Homo sapiens: one gene and its partner. The protein of the gene in region 1 purifies or fractionates together with the protein of each later gene. This does not show direct contact. Each region holds a gene or a part of one and is shown in the gene's direction. Other genes may lie near its edges.

Evidence for each region. Proteins that work in one complex are often made in the same cells at the same time.
Region 2: the proteins of MTERF2 (region 1) and DCX purify together in Homo sapiens (affinity purification with mass spectrometry; 2 studies listed by BioGRID and IntAct, with this or other methods). This does not show direct contact.

Annotation. Positions count from the first base shown.
Region 1 is NC_000012.12:106,984,111-106,990,971, reverse strand, and holds the start of MTERF2 (transcription termination factor 2, mitochondrial precursor), read left to right. Parts: upstream 1-3,825; 5' UTR 3,826-4,003; intron 4,004-4,662; exon of another isoform or gene 4,663-5,746; 5' UTR 5,747-5,857; intron 5,858-6,861. UniProt on the Homo sapiens protein: Binds mitochondrial DNA and plays a role in the regulation of transcription of mitochondrial mRNA and rRNA species.
Region 2 is NC_000023.11:111,409,193-111,416,697, reverse strand, and holds the start of DCX (neuronal migration protein doublecortin), read left to right. Parts: upstream 1-4,505; 5' UTR 4,506-4,560; exon of another isoform or gene 4,561-4,728; intron 4,729-5,551; exon of another isoform or gene 5,552-5,723; coding exon of another isoform or gene 5,724-5,944; intron 5,945-6,277; coding exon of another isoform or gene 6,278-6,299; coding exon 6,300-6,663; intron 6,664-7,505. UniProt on the Homo sapiens protein: Microtubule-associated protein required for initial steps of neuronal dispersion and cortex lamination during cerebral cortex development. May act by competing with the putative neuronal protein kinase DCLK1 in binding to a target protein.

The DNA of each region.
Region 1 (6,861 bases):
TATGAGCTGGCATGTGATAGGGTACTCAGTGTTAGCCACAGGGCTGCCATGCTGTGTCACCCCCTGTCGTGTACAGTGCACAGTCTGCATAGCTGTATGCCACAGCTCTGGTTAGCTGCCATTATTTTTATTAGTATTGTTATTATCCCTTTAGTGTTCTCTAGTAGGTTAGTTCTTGCCATTCTGAATTATAACCAGTGGCTTTTCATTTTCCCATCATTAATCATGATAGATATTTAGTATGATAATTTAAAGATAACTGAAGATAAAAGTTGAGTAAAAATACAGAAACGATAACATTTTAGATGATATGCATTTTTAAAAATATCCTGGATAGTGAATTAACAATGATCAATAAATTCCATTACTGAGGCTAGGTGTGGTGGCTCACGCCTATAATCCCAGCACTTTTGGAGGCTGAGGTGGGAGGATCACTGAAGCCCAGGAGGTCAAGGCTGCAGTGAGCTATGATTGTGCCACTGTACTCCAGCCTGGGTGGACAGATCAAGACCTCATCTGAGCTGGGTGTGGTGGCTCATTGCCTGTAATCCCAGCACTTTGTGGGGTTGAGGCGGGAGGATCACTTAAAGCCAGGAGTTTGAGACCAGCCCTGGAGACTTAGCAAGACCCCATCTCTATTTTTAAAAAATCAATATAAAAATAAAAAAAAAGTAAAGAAGACCAGGCAGGGTGGCTCATGCCTATAATTCTAGCACTTTGGGAAACTGAAGTGAAGCAGGAGAATCACTTGAGGCATGAACCCAGGAGGCGGAGTTTGCAGTGAGCCGAGATCACATCACTGCACTCCAGCCTGGGCGACAGAGTGAGACTCTGTCTCAAAAAAAAAAAAATGATTAGCCTGAACAACATCTTGGGACCCCATCTCTACAAAAGGAAACAACAAAAATATTAGCCAGGTGTGGTGGTGTGCACTATGGTCCCAGCTACTTGGGAGGCTGAGGTGGGAGGATGGCTTGATCTAGGGGATTTGAGGCTGCAGTGAGCTATGATTGCACCACTGCACTCCAACCTGGATGACAGGGTGAGACCTTGTCTCGGGGATGGGGCGGCAGGTGGGAAATCCATTACCGAGAAAAAGAATAAGAAAAAATCCTGTGCTTTATCGTTCTTTTTTCACCACTGTTAAAGTGAAGTAATATTTTAATTGTTTTTTATGGTAAGTGTACCTCACATCCTACTCTTTGGACCTGGTTGTACAGTGCAGAGTTGAGAAATTCATAGACCTGAGATTTACCATCACCGTACAAGAGGTCATAGATTTCAGTTTTCTTGTTGTTATTTTGAGACAGAGTCTCACTCTGTCGCCCAGGCTGGAGTGCAGTGGCACGATCTCGGCTCACTGCGGCATCTGCCTCCTGGGTTCAAGCGATTCTCCTGCCTCAGCCTCCCGAGTAGTTGGGACTACAGGCGCGTGCCATCACGCCCGGCTAATTTTTTGTATTTTTTAGTAGAGACAGGGTTTCACCGTTAGCCAGAATGGTCGCGATCTCCTGACCTCATGATCCGCTGGCCTCGGCCTCCCAAAGTGCTGGGATTACAGGCATGAGCCACCGCGCACGGCCAAAGATTCAGTTTTAATGTGAATAAATAAACAGTAAAAGAACACTATCTCAGCATAAGCACTGGTATGCTATTTATAAATGTAAGAGGATTTTTTTTTTATTAGGGAGTTTTTTGGAAAGCTTTTTCAGTTTGGTGTAAATAGTGGTCAAAATGAATCACTGAAAGGGAAAGAAAAGGCATCAGTCATCATGCTCTACTTGAGCAGATACATGATGTTCGAATCAGTGTTCTCCCCTTAACTAGAAATCCTACTTGTGGTTAAGGGATTTAAGACATTTTACTCATTCAGCAAATACTTCTTCAATTCTTATTGCCAAAAACTGTACTGACAACTTGGGAAAATTATATTGAGAGAACCAGGGTTTTGAATGAACTGTACAAAGTCCTTATGTTTTTCATATTTGCTTAAAATAAATAAGTAAATTTGAGATATAAAAGTCTATCAGTATTTTTAATGCATCTCTTACATACTAGAAATTTCAGGATCTTCTCACAATTCAAATGTGTTTGTAATTTTCTTGTACATAATATGCATAATTGTAAGTTCTTTTCCCCTTTTCTTCATTCAAGGTTTTTTTTCTGATTATATGGTCCTAGAAATGCACTGTTTAAATATTTGGGCTGGAAAAAACTTTGAGTAGCATTTATTTAATACAGTTGGCATAGCTGATTTGTCAGTTTCAAGTTTTGATTACAATGCACGGGGTCATATGTATTGTAATTCCTTGCACAATTACGTGGAGCCCTAATACAAGCTTCCAGCACCCTGGTGCACATTTCTGCTCCCTCCCTCCTGACCAGTGATGGCAGCTTGCAGTTCTAAGTCCTGAGTTTACATTCCTTAACTTCCTTTTCTGTATCCTAATTTCCTTTTCCTAAGTGCAAATGACACACTTTGGTTAGTCTGGACCCCAAATCATTTTATTTCAGGAAAAAGTGTGCAATAAATCTATGCATAATAGAGTTTTTATATTCGGATAACTCAGGAGTTGCTGGACAAACACCCCCCAGCTGTACACATGAGTTGCTCAGATCATTCTAGAATATCCTAGAGATCAGAGGTGGGTGATCTTGAGGAGCCAGGATTCTTGCTGCTACTCAGTGGAGTTAAATGCACGTGTGAGCTCCTCTCAATATAGCCTGTTGAGCCTAAACTGCATAGTGAGACTAGACTCAAAGATTTAGTTAACATTTCCTGAGTTCCTACTGTGTGCCCAGCATTGTTGACAGAAAAAATAATCAGTAGCCTCAAGGAATTCACTCCACAGGGTGCGAGGGCAGTCTGTATGCCAGTGCCACCGACGGCAGAACTGTGCACAGTGTGCTACGAACACCTGACAGCAGACACCTCCAGCTGGGAAAACCAGTTTTCCTGACTCCAACTCCACACAAACAGAATCACCAGGCCCAGCTCAGGGCACCCTGTCCTCGATAACACTTAACTAGGTGTGATTAGTCACGTTATTAGTTGTTGATATCTCTGCCCTCCACTAGAATGTAAGCTCCATAAGGACAGGGAATGTGTTTTATTCCCCCTCTATTTTCTCATTGCTGTTTCAATATGCTTGGCACTTAGCAGGCCTGCCATAAATACTTGTTTTTTGGATGGATAAATGTGAAAATAAATGAGAGAGACATTCAGCCTGGCTTTAAGGAGAAATTAACGTGTTTAGTGTATGAGGTTGGGCATCACCGGTAATAATTAGAATGGAAACCACTTGGCAGTTTATCAGAAAAGGGGAGTATTTAGGTGAAGGTGGCAAGGAGGGAGAGAAAGGAGAATGGCTTTTAAAGACAGTCGCTAACTGCTGGGGTAGGGTGGGGGCGGGGAAGAGTTCAGATGTGTTTCAAAGAACTTTGGGGGTTTTTTAAACATTTCTTTTGTAAGTTGGTTCTTTACCTAACTGAATTATTTTGGGAACAGTGATTGGCTCTATCTTAAAGATATAGCGGTTTCTGTTACTTCTTTTTTTTCTTATATTTTCTAAGCGTCAAAGCTACTGGAACTCCGCTTCCTAAAATGCTGGGAAGGAAAGGGTGTGAAAATGCCAGATGCCCCCGCCAGCACAGGCTGGGCTGCCTGGAAAGCCGATTCCCACTCCGACTCGCCCTCGTGGTGCGGGGAGGGACGCGTAGTTGTGTCCCGCGCTCTGACTGGCTGCGTTGGGACGCGGGGGCGTGTCTTGGGGGGGCGGGGGTTGGCGGTCATCTCCCGAGCCCTGATTGGCCATGGGCGAAGGGACTGATGGCCTGGTTGGCGCTGCTGAGAACTGTCGGGAGCTTCTTGAGACCGAGGACCGAAATCCCGGCTCCAGGCCTCGGGGACTGCGGACTGTGGGGAGGCTGGCCGGAGAGAGAGGGAAGGACGGGGCCTGGCCCCCGGGACTCCCTGTGCCTTGCTTGGAGCTGACGCCGACGGGTGAGTCGCCCCCTTCCTCTGCTCCTGGGCGTGTTCCTCACCAGCGGCGCCGCAGCGGTCAGGGCCCGCAAAACCCCACGCCTCGCCAGACGCTCAGCTCAGCCTGCCGGGTTTCTCTGGAAAAGCGGAGGCCCCACAGTGAATGTGCGGCCTTTTGATCGGTCCTGGAGATCTTCCGTGGACCCTCGTTTTTCCTTGCTTATAAACGTTGGTCAATTTGAAACTGGCAGCAGGGCATATGTGTTACGAAAGAAGAACTTTATTGAAACCAGTGGTGGTGTAGAGAAGACCATACTAACCATAACTGTGTATTACAGAAGTGAATTTCACTCCCCAAAAATGCTTAAGAAACAAGCATCCTAGAACAGCCCACATTGTGATTTAACAAACATTTACCAAAAGCATTGCTATATGTGGGGGCACAGGGCTAAGAGCAGGCAGGACTCTGGAGCCAACCTGTGGGGTTTGAGTCCAAATTCTGCCGGTTTTTTGTTTTTTGTTTTTTTTTTTAGCTGAGTAACCTTGGGCAAGTTCCTTTACCTGCGTCTGTTTCCTCATTTTAAAATGAGTTGTTGTGATGATTTAATGATTTAGTATATGTGAAGAGTTTTCTGCATATTCTAAGTGATTTATGGTATTAACTCGTTTGATCTTTGCAGTCACCCAGGAGATAGTATCACCATTTTCCTGATGCCAAACTGAGGCTCAGAGAGGTGAAGTAACTTCTTCAAGTCACAACACAACTGTTGTCCAGGAATCAGGCAGTCTGGCTCTGCTAACCCAGTTTTACCCACTGCATTAATGTACCGCATCCACTTGTTCACTCAGTTTCACCTGACAAATACTAATTTTGTCTCTCTGTGGAACAAGTTCTTTGCTGGGTGCAGGGAATAAAGCAGAACACCGTTCAGTTCCTGCCTTCCCAACGCTTGTAAATCTAGTGCAGGTCATTCATGGCCGGGCTGCAGGGTGTCCATGAATCCTGCTAAAATCATTTGCGAAATGTTGTGAGCGTGGGTCTTTTCTTCTGGAAAGAGAGTCTGTGACTCTCAGGTTCTGAGTTGATCTGTGATCCAAACAGAGGTGTGAAGAAGTGTTGTTTTAGCAGATCTGTGCCTAGTATGCCTGATACACAGCTTGAACTTCAAACAAACAGCAACAAAATTCCTACTGGTTGGAAGAATGAAGAACTTGTAAGAGCATAATAAGTGCTGCAGTAGCGTCCGGAGCAGGGTGCTGTGGAAGAGCACACAGAAGGCCACCTGCCCAGGAATGCCTCCTAGAGGCAGTGAAGGCAGCTGGGTGAAGGATAGGGAAGCAGTTCATTGGAACACTGTGGTGACCAGTCTGTCCATGTAGTGTTGAGACAGAAACAACACGTGAACAGCTGCAGCTGTTGTACCACTTGTGCGCAAGTGTAAAAGTCCATGGTGCCATGAAATCATGTAATGGGGACAGGAGGCTTCATGTATTCGTGAAGGTTAGAAAAGTTTCCTTGAGAAAGTGACACTTAGGCCTAAAAGTTGGAGCATTTTGGGCATGGAATCTGGCCCACAGTCTTCAAAGACCACATGGTAGAAACCAGTAGAGCACCAGGGACTGACAGGAAGCAAATGCAGCTGGTGCAGGAGAGGGAAATGGGAATTAGGGTGGTGGCAGAGCCCAAAGAGGCCTTGTAGGCCATGGTAAGGCATTTCTATGTTTTATTTTACTTTGTCTTTATCCTAAAATGCCATTGGCAAGTTTATTGCAGGGAACTGACAAGATCACATTTTGAGAAGAAGTTGGAAAGAATCCCAAGTGGATGAACTGAATATCTGGATGAGGACAAGATCTGTGGGGAGAGACTGTAAGGTAAGAAGAAGAGAGGTCTAGAACCAAGCCTTGAAGGTGAGCTTGTATGGGAGACAGATAGAGGGTGGCGAGAAGTATAGAAAGGGAGAAGAATCAAAAAAAGTCGAGTGTCCAGGAAGTCAAATGAGAGAATATTTCAAGGAGAAAGTGGTCAACTCTGCTAAAAGCTGCAGAAGTCAAAAGAGATAAGGAAGGCTGGGTGTGGTGGCTCATGGCTTGTATTAGTCCTTTTTCATGCTGCTGATAAAGACATAGCCAAGACTGGGCAATTTACAAAAGCAAGAGGTTTAATGGACTTACAGTGCCACGTGGTTGGGGAGACCTCACAATCATGGCGGAAGGTGAAAGGCACATCTCACATCGTGGCAGACAAGAAAAGAGTGAGAGCCAAGCGAAAGGGGTTTCCCCTTATAAAACCATCAGATCTCATGAGACTTATTCACTGTCATGAGAACAGTATGGGGGAAACCACCCCTATGATTTAATTATCTCCCACTGGGTTCCTCCCACAACACAAGGGAATTATGGGAGCTACAATTCAAGATGAGATTTGGGTGGGGACACAGCCAAACCACATCACGCCTGTAATCGACACTTTGGGATGCCAAGGTGGGCAGATCGCTTGAGCTCAGGAGTTCAAGAGCAGCCTGGAAATGTGGTGAAACCCCTTCTCTACAAAAAAAAGAGATAAGAATGAAAACTACTCATTGGCTGTAACCACATGAAAGTTATCTTTATCGCAAGCTATATAAGTAGAAGAGGAAATGGAGAGAAAGAAGGATCTGCAAGAATTAGCTGAGGTGAAGAGAAAGATAGGGTTTGGGCAGGGAAAAGAAGAGCAGTGGAGAGAGAGAGGGTTTGGGCAAGGACAGGAAGAGCAGTGGAGTGATGGCTGGAGCATCAGAGGAGGATACACCTGAAGGAGCAAACACTTGAGAAAGGGCTTGAGAGTTCTCAGGCCAGAGAGGCTGAGCTCAGCACAGGAGCAGGAATGACCCTGGATA
Region 2 (7,505 bases), on another chromosome or scaffold:
GTGGGAGCAGGCACTTCACATGGCAAAAGCTGGAGCAAGAGCGAGAGAACAAGAGAGCGAGAGAACAAGAGAGCGAGAGAACAAGAGAGCGAGAGAACAAGAGAGCGAGAGAACAAGAGAGCGAGAGTGAGCGAGAGAGAAAGAACACTCATGCATGAGTGCATTGGAGGGGAGGTGCCACACACTTTTAAAAGACCAAATCTCAGGAGACCTTACTATCAGGAAGACAGCACCAAGTCATGGGGGATCCACCCCCACAATCCAAATACCTCCCACCAGGTCCAGCATTGGGGATTACAATTCAACATGAGACTGGGCAGAGACAAAAATACAAACTATATCAATATCTATGTGTCATATATAGATATCAGGACACTAACTTTCTGTCAGATATTTAAGTTTCAAATATTTTTTCTCAGTCTATTATTTATTTTTTAATGTTTAAATGCTGTCTTTTGCCGTTAGAAGCTGTAAATGTTTATGAAATCAATTTATCAATATTTTCTTATAAGATCTCTGCTTTCTGTGTCTTAAGAAATTCTTTTCTACCGTAAGGATTTAAAGGAAACCTTTTATGCTTCCTTCCAATAATTTTAAAGTTTTGTTCTTTATTCAGGTCTTTAAAACATCTGGAGATTATTTTTATGTATAGTATAAGGGGAGTATCTAATTTGATTTTTTTTATATGAAAGTTAATTGACTTAATACTATCTATTGAATACTCTATGTGTTCCTTACTTTATGCAATTCAACAAATATCCAAACCTATTGTGTGTTAGGTATTGTTCTAGAAAGTTAATTATGCAATATTAAAAATATAGACAAAAGTAGTCCTATTGGTAATGTAAATTATATATATCATTAAAGCTGTTAGAATATTCCTACCCTGTTGAAGCTTATATTATACCTTCAGGAAATATGTAATTAATAAGTATATTACGTAGTATGTTGGAGGTGATAAATGTTATGGAAAAATAAAGAGAGTAAAAAAATTTTGAACTGCTAGGTTGAGAGGGAAGTTTGTAACTTTAAATCAGGTAGTCTAGGTTGGTCTTGTTGAGAAGTCAACCTTTGGGTGAAGACTTGAAAGAAGTGAGGGAGTTGGCATATGAATATTCGGGGGATAATAAAAGTTAATACTTATACATACTATGTGCCAGGGTCTGTTCTAAACACTATACATATATTTGCTCATTTAATCCTCATAACAACTGAGAATGCTACTATTATTATCATCACCTTCGTGTGACAGATGGGTGAAGTGAAGCACAGAGGGTTAAGTACCTCACCCAAGGTCCCTAGCTAATAATTAGTAGAATCAAAATTTGAACCTAGGCAGTCTGGCTCCAGAGTCCATGCTTTTCCCATTATCTTATGATATAGCAAGTTCCTGTTTATGCTGATCTCTGTTTTGTTTAATTAATCTTTGTCTGTCCTCCAGGCCAACACCACACTATCTTCATTACTATAGCTTTATAACAAATTTTTGTAGGGCAGTTATTGGCTTCTGATTTCTCTTTTTTACAATGATCTTGGCTACTCTTAGAGTTTTATATTCTTCCACAAAAATTTTGAAGTAATTTTTTGAGTTTCACAAAAATTCGTGTTGGGGCTTTTATTGGAATTTCTTCATATGTATAGATTACTTTGGGGAGGATTGATACCTTACAGCATTGCATCTTGTTATCCATGAGCCTGGTCTGACTTTACATTTATTAACAGCTTCTGTTATGTTTTTCAATAGTTTTATGATTTTCTCAATAAAGGCCCTATGCATAAGCAATCTTGTGATATGAGATGTGAGTCCAGGGGAAAAGTACATCTTTAAATATGGAAGTCAACTTTGAAGGTCAAGGGAAAGTCCAACCTCGTTTCCTGTTTGCTTACTCTGTCCCACACAGGATCCTACTCTTTGTGCTTCTGATTGGTAACATAAACTAATAATTTTTTTGGTATTTTGTGTGTGTGTGTGTGTGTGTGTGTGTGTGTGTGTGTGTGTGAGAGAGAGAGAGAGAGAGAGAGTAAAAGAGAGGGAGAGAGAGAGAGAGAGAGAGAGAGAGAGAGAGATGGATGAGAAATTTCTTGACCCTGCTCTTTAAGCTGAGTTTGATTAACCCAGACTGCAGTATATCAAGAAAGATCTAATCCCTTCTTCATGATTTTTGCAAGATGCATAGTCCTGTGCTATCTCCTTTCCTCAATGAGTCGTCAAGCCCCTCAGGGGCAGTGATGGATGTTTCCTACACTGTCTTGCCTGTGGTACAGGGCACATGGTAAGTAATCAAAAGGTCGTATTGCTACATTTCCAACATAGAGTTGCTATTCTTTTTCTTAAATCACTTCACTCCCTCAACCGTGACTTTCCCTTGACCTTCAAAGTTGATTTCCATATTTAAAGATTTACTTTTTCCCTGGACTCACATCTGAGACCTTCTCTTTGCCAATGGCCTGTTTCCTCTGAAGAAGTGAGAAAGAAGGTCTTGGTAAGTAGCTGAGAGTTCTTTGAGAAGAAATATCTTTGGAGATGATCTAGTCCAGTTTTTGCAAAAGTTTTTTATCCCTGCAGAACATTAGTCCATGTTCTGGGGCGACCAAAAGGTTCTGAGCTTTAAAAATAAGTGGAAGCCCTGTATACCAAATTGTTTTCTTTTTGAGACACATTTTATAGTTTATATTAAAGGCCCTGACAAGTTTTATGATAAGCAAAATTATCTTCGTTTAGCGCAACACTTTTCAGACATTTTTGACCACAGAATTTTTTTTCCTGTTTTTAAGGAACACCTATTAATGCCCACATATCTCAAACAAGGAAATATTGATCCTGCCTATCCCTCTGCTCTCTATTATATATAAAGCAAACAAAGTCATTTATCCTAGGCTGTCTCATAAAAACATTTTGTAGCTTCCACAGTAGCATTGCAAAGCCTATATTATGAGGAATTTTCCTCTGAAATACATTCCAAATGGTTCGTGTTTAAGTTTTATTATCCCATCCATTGTTGTATCTTCACCAGAAATAAAATGATTTTTAGTTCTGATGCAAAATTAATTGCTACATATTTACTGAATGCTTATGATGTGCAAGAAAGAAGTTTTAAGACATTAGCTTTGTTGGAATTTCCATATTTTCCTGCCCTTATTCCTTGATTTTTCTTTGCCTCTAGCCTGAATAATGTTGATTTTTCATGAGGTTGCCACAAGGTAAGGCAACAACACATGGAAGAAAACAGGGCAGACACATGCATTCCCCTGAGGTACTTGTATAGTAACCAAGAAATCAGCAGCAAGGTGTTGGGGGGACTTAACTAGGTAGGTTGCACATTTGAGGCTATCCACTCAACTAACAGACAGTTCCAGGCTTTGCTGAGTCAACACCTTTCACAGAAGAAAGACCATCATATATTTTATCCCACTTGGTGGCAGCTTACAATAAAACACATGCAGAGAAAATGCTTAAATATAAAAGTTCAACAGCACTATATAAAAGGAAGGGTTAATTATACTAGGAATCAGATATAAAATAATTACTGAGCATGCTCTTAGCTCTGAGCTTCCTGGAAGCCAAGCAAAAATAGAACCATGATAGTTCAAGGCTGCTACATATTGATGCATGTAGCTTCAATTGTGAAGATGGTAGCATCCCCCTACCCCATTTAACCTCTCACCTTTCTCTTTTGTTTTATAGTTCGGCCTGATCTAATTAGTTCAATTTGGATGCTTCCTTGAGTTTTTTTTGTAACATATTTTATATAAAGAAGTCAGTTAGTGACAAATAAGCAGTTTGAGGAGAAATCTGTTAATATTTATTTTGTAGCCATCAGATTTACTTCACATAGAAAGGTCTTTGGGTTGGGTTTGAACTTCCAAACTCTCAAAGGTAAATGCCACATTAACCTTTCATTAACCAAATTCTTACACCAAGCTGATAGATTTGGGATGTCCTTTTTACTTCTATCTTCCATAATATTCTAAAATTATTTTCCCTTGTTTTGTTCCTATCCTACTTCCTCTTAGTCTACTTTGTTGACTTCATTAAAAAACAAAAAACCAGTTGTTGGATACTTGAGCTAAACTGCCTTAAAGAATCTGCAGATTTTATTTTATTTTTTTTCTCTCAAGAGGGTAAAAGGAAGAGAGCTACAATTTCTAAGAAGCCTGGCTTGGCTGTCTGAGTCTGGCCCCCAGGCAGATTAGGCCAAGGTTTTGGCCAAGTGAAATTGCCAATTTTCTAAAAGAAAGGGCTAGCACATTGCTCATTAGAGCATTCTGATTTTGTCTGCGCAATCTTTTTGCTACCCCGCAATTTCCTGTTGGTTATAAATGAAACCTTTCTAGCTGTTAATGCAGCCTGTGAATTTTTTTAAAAGCATGTAATTAATCATAGGAGGTTGGGGGGATTCACTAAGCCTGAGTTACATGGGAGAAGCTGGACAAGGCACTAGGACCTAGAAGGCATCTATCCACCCTGGCAGGAATTTCTTGCTTGGAGCTCAGACAACAAAGGCATAGAGAGATTGGTTTTCTTTCTCTCAGCATCTCCACCCAACCAGCAGAAAACCGGTGAGTGGGGCTTTTAAGTGATTTTCAAGAAGAATGTAACAGATGTCAAACGGGAAAAGCACAAGGCAAAGCCTGCTCTCTCTGTCTCTCTGTCTCCTCTTCTCCTTTTTTGCCTTATTCTATCCGATTTTTTCCCTAAGCTTCTACCTGGGATTTTCCTTTGGAAAAGTGAGTTTGATGTTCCTTTGTTTTCACTGTGATGTTAATTTAGAATAATACTACCTCTGATCCTAAAGCAAAGCAAAGCCTTACTGGCATGCCTGGGGAAATGTTTGCTGCTTGCCTTGAGGAGGTGGGGTCTCTTACCACTGCAGGTTGTCTGACAGAGACAATGCTGAGCTCAGCATAGGTCATGGTGACATTGGAAAAAAGGCGGAATTGAGCCTGGCAGACCCATTAGGCACCAGTCTTTCTTATCTCCTGTCCTCCTGGTCCCTTGCAAATATATTGATGTGGCAGTGTGTAGCAGCTGAGCCCTGCTTGCTTTGTGAGTCCTTTTATCCCCATCTGTGAGATGCATGTTAATAGTTTGGCTCGTAGGATGTCACTACATTTGCTAGCATTTGTGGCTTCAGTTGTATTGGGTTTCATGTTTTGATTGTTTGGGGTTCTTGGTGGGGGAGGGGGTTCAACAGAAGGGAGAAAAGCAAAGCCTGACAAATGACCATCTTTTCTCAGCTAATGCACCTGGGCAATATACAAGTTTGGGGTGAATTGCCTGCTGTGAGGGTAAATGTCACTTCAATTAAGGTAGAAACCCAGAACAATGAAAGGTGTGCTTCCTTCTAAAGGTCCCGTATGCTGTTCGGAGAGTCATTTGTGAATCTTTCAACAATTAAATTATTCCATTAAGAGGTGTTGCTGCATCAGTGGGGAGGGGGTGGAGCACCTGGGGGGGAAAAAAAAGGATTTTGTGAACAAATGGAACCGGGGGAAGACAGAGCTAGTAACTTGTTAAATAACTTATTTTTCTAATCCTTTTTCCCCCCAGCTTATTTCTTATGAATGTCGGATAGCTGCACCAGCTTGGTGGGGAAAGGGTTTGATGAATAGCACAAAGACACTGGCTGTTCCCTGGAGGCTGTCCCTTTAAAGGAGAATCTTAGTTTATTCTGGGGGGAGGGGATGCACACATTAGAGTAGGAAAGAGGGCTTGGAATAAAATGAAAACACTCCCCCTTCATAGTCATTGTACTGAAATGCAAAGACTGCTTCCTAAGCTGGAGATGCTAACCTTGGGTAGCTCCTTCTGTTCTCTTCAAGGGGAATTTTGTCAGGCTATGGATTCATTTACAACTGTTAGTCATGTGGGCATGTGTGAGGAAACAGATGCCAGTTTTAATGTATTTAGCCCGAAGTTCCAATTTGATAGGAGCCACTGTCAGTAAGTCTCAGGATTTTCAGCTATTTCAAAATCTCCCCTTCTCCTCTGTCTGGAACAGTGCCAAGAGTGCCTCCCTCTCTATCTCTTACTCCCAACCCCCACAACCACCAGCACCCCCGCCCAGCCCCTCCTTCTTCTCTATTAAGATCAATATTCCTGCAGGTCAGGGGCAAGCAGCAGATGGGTCACAGGCTTTTTTCAACCAGTTCTTTTCACAAGCAGCAGATTGCAGATCTGGATCTGGCTAATATTTAAAATCCCTTCTTTTTTCCTTCTCCTTGTCCCTTTTTGTTTTTGCCTCTCTTCACCCCCATCCCTTTCTCCCACGCTCAGGTCTCTGAGGTTCCACCAAAATATGGAACTTGATTTTGGACACTTTGACGAAAGAGATAAGACATCCAGGAACATGCGAGGCTCCCGGATGAATGGGTTGCCTAGCCCCACTCACAGCGCCCACTGTAGCTTCTACCGAACCAGAACCTTGCAGGCACTGAGTAATGAGAAGAAAGCCAAGAAGGTACGTTTCTACCGCAATGGGGACCGCTACTTCAAGGGGATTGTGTACGCTGTGTCCTCTGACCGTTTTCGCAGCTTTGACGCCTTGCTGGCTGACCTGACGCGATCTCTGTCTGACAACATCAACCTGCCTCAGGGAGTGCGTTACATTTACACCATTGATGGATCCAGGAAGATCGGAAGCATGGATGAACTGGAGGAAGGTAATTTAAATAGTGGGTGGTGGCCGTTGGTGGGAGGTGGCATCATTGGTTATGGTTACATTCTTCGGTTGCTTTGAAAAAAAATTAGGCAATGTATTTTTCAAAACACCGGGTTGATTGATGCTCAAATTTCTAATGCTATAGACATCAACAGAACCATTAGCAATCACCCTTCAGTCTCTGCTGAGGTTGAAGTGTGAATGGTGGTGATCATGCATTGTGCTTATCTGCCAGGGTATAAAAAGGAAAATCTTAATTGTAGCATTTACTCTAGATTTTGTTCATAATTAACTCTGAGTAGCACTATTGAGGCAGAGCATGAAATCATTAAGGGTATAACGAGGAAGGACATTTGGTTGGGTTAACAGAGAAAATATTATGCCCAAATTTTCTTTGAACTGCTGAGAAATTATTTGTGAATTGCAACTCATTGGAAATATGCACCCTAAGAGCAGGATTTCCTGGACATATTCACAGAGGATTATTCTTTTAGGTAAGTGGTCGCGGCTCAGCTGTTGCTTCTAAAAAGCCTACTTTAGGGTGTGTCCCTAAGGCTGAGGTCATTGGGAGAAATACCAAAGAAAGCTGTAGGTATGTCTGGTATTTTAATAAAGACCATTCCTATTAGAATAGGATTTGACTCACTATACCTAAATCCCCTTATAACCTCTATAGATTTTTGTGTGGCAACTAAATTTTCTGAGTAGATTGCCAAAAATCCCAACAACCTGTGTACCCACCTCAAAATAGGGAAAATCCTACCTCTTACCAGAACTTACCCAGCCATAGAGTCTTCTTTGTGGTCATTTAGAAAATAGATCTTGGGTCACATTTTTAACATT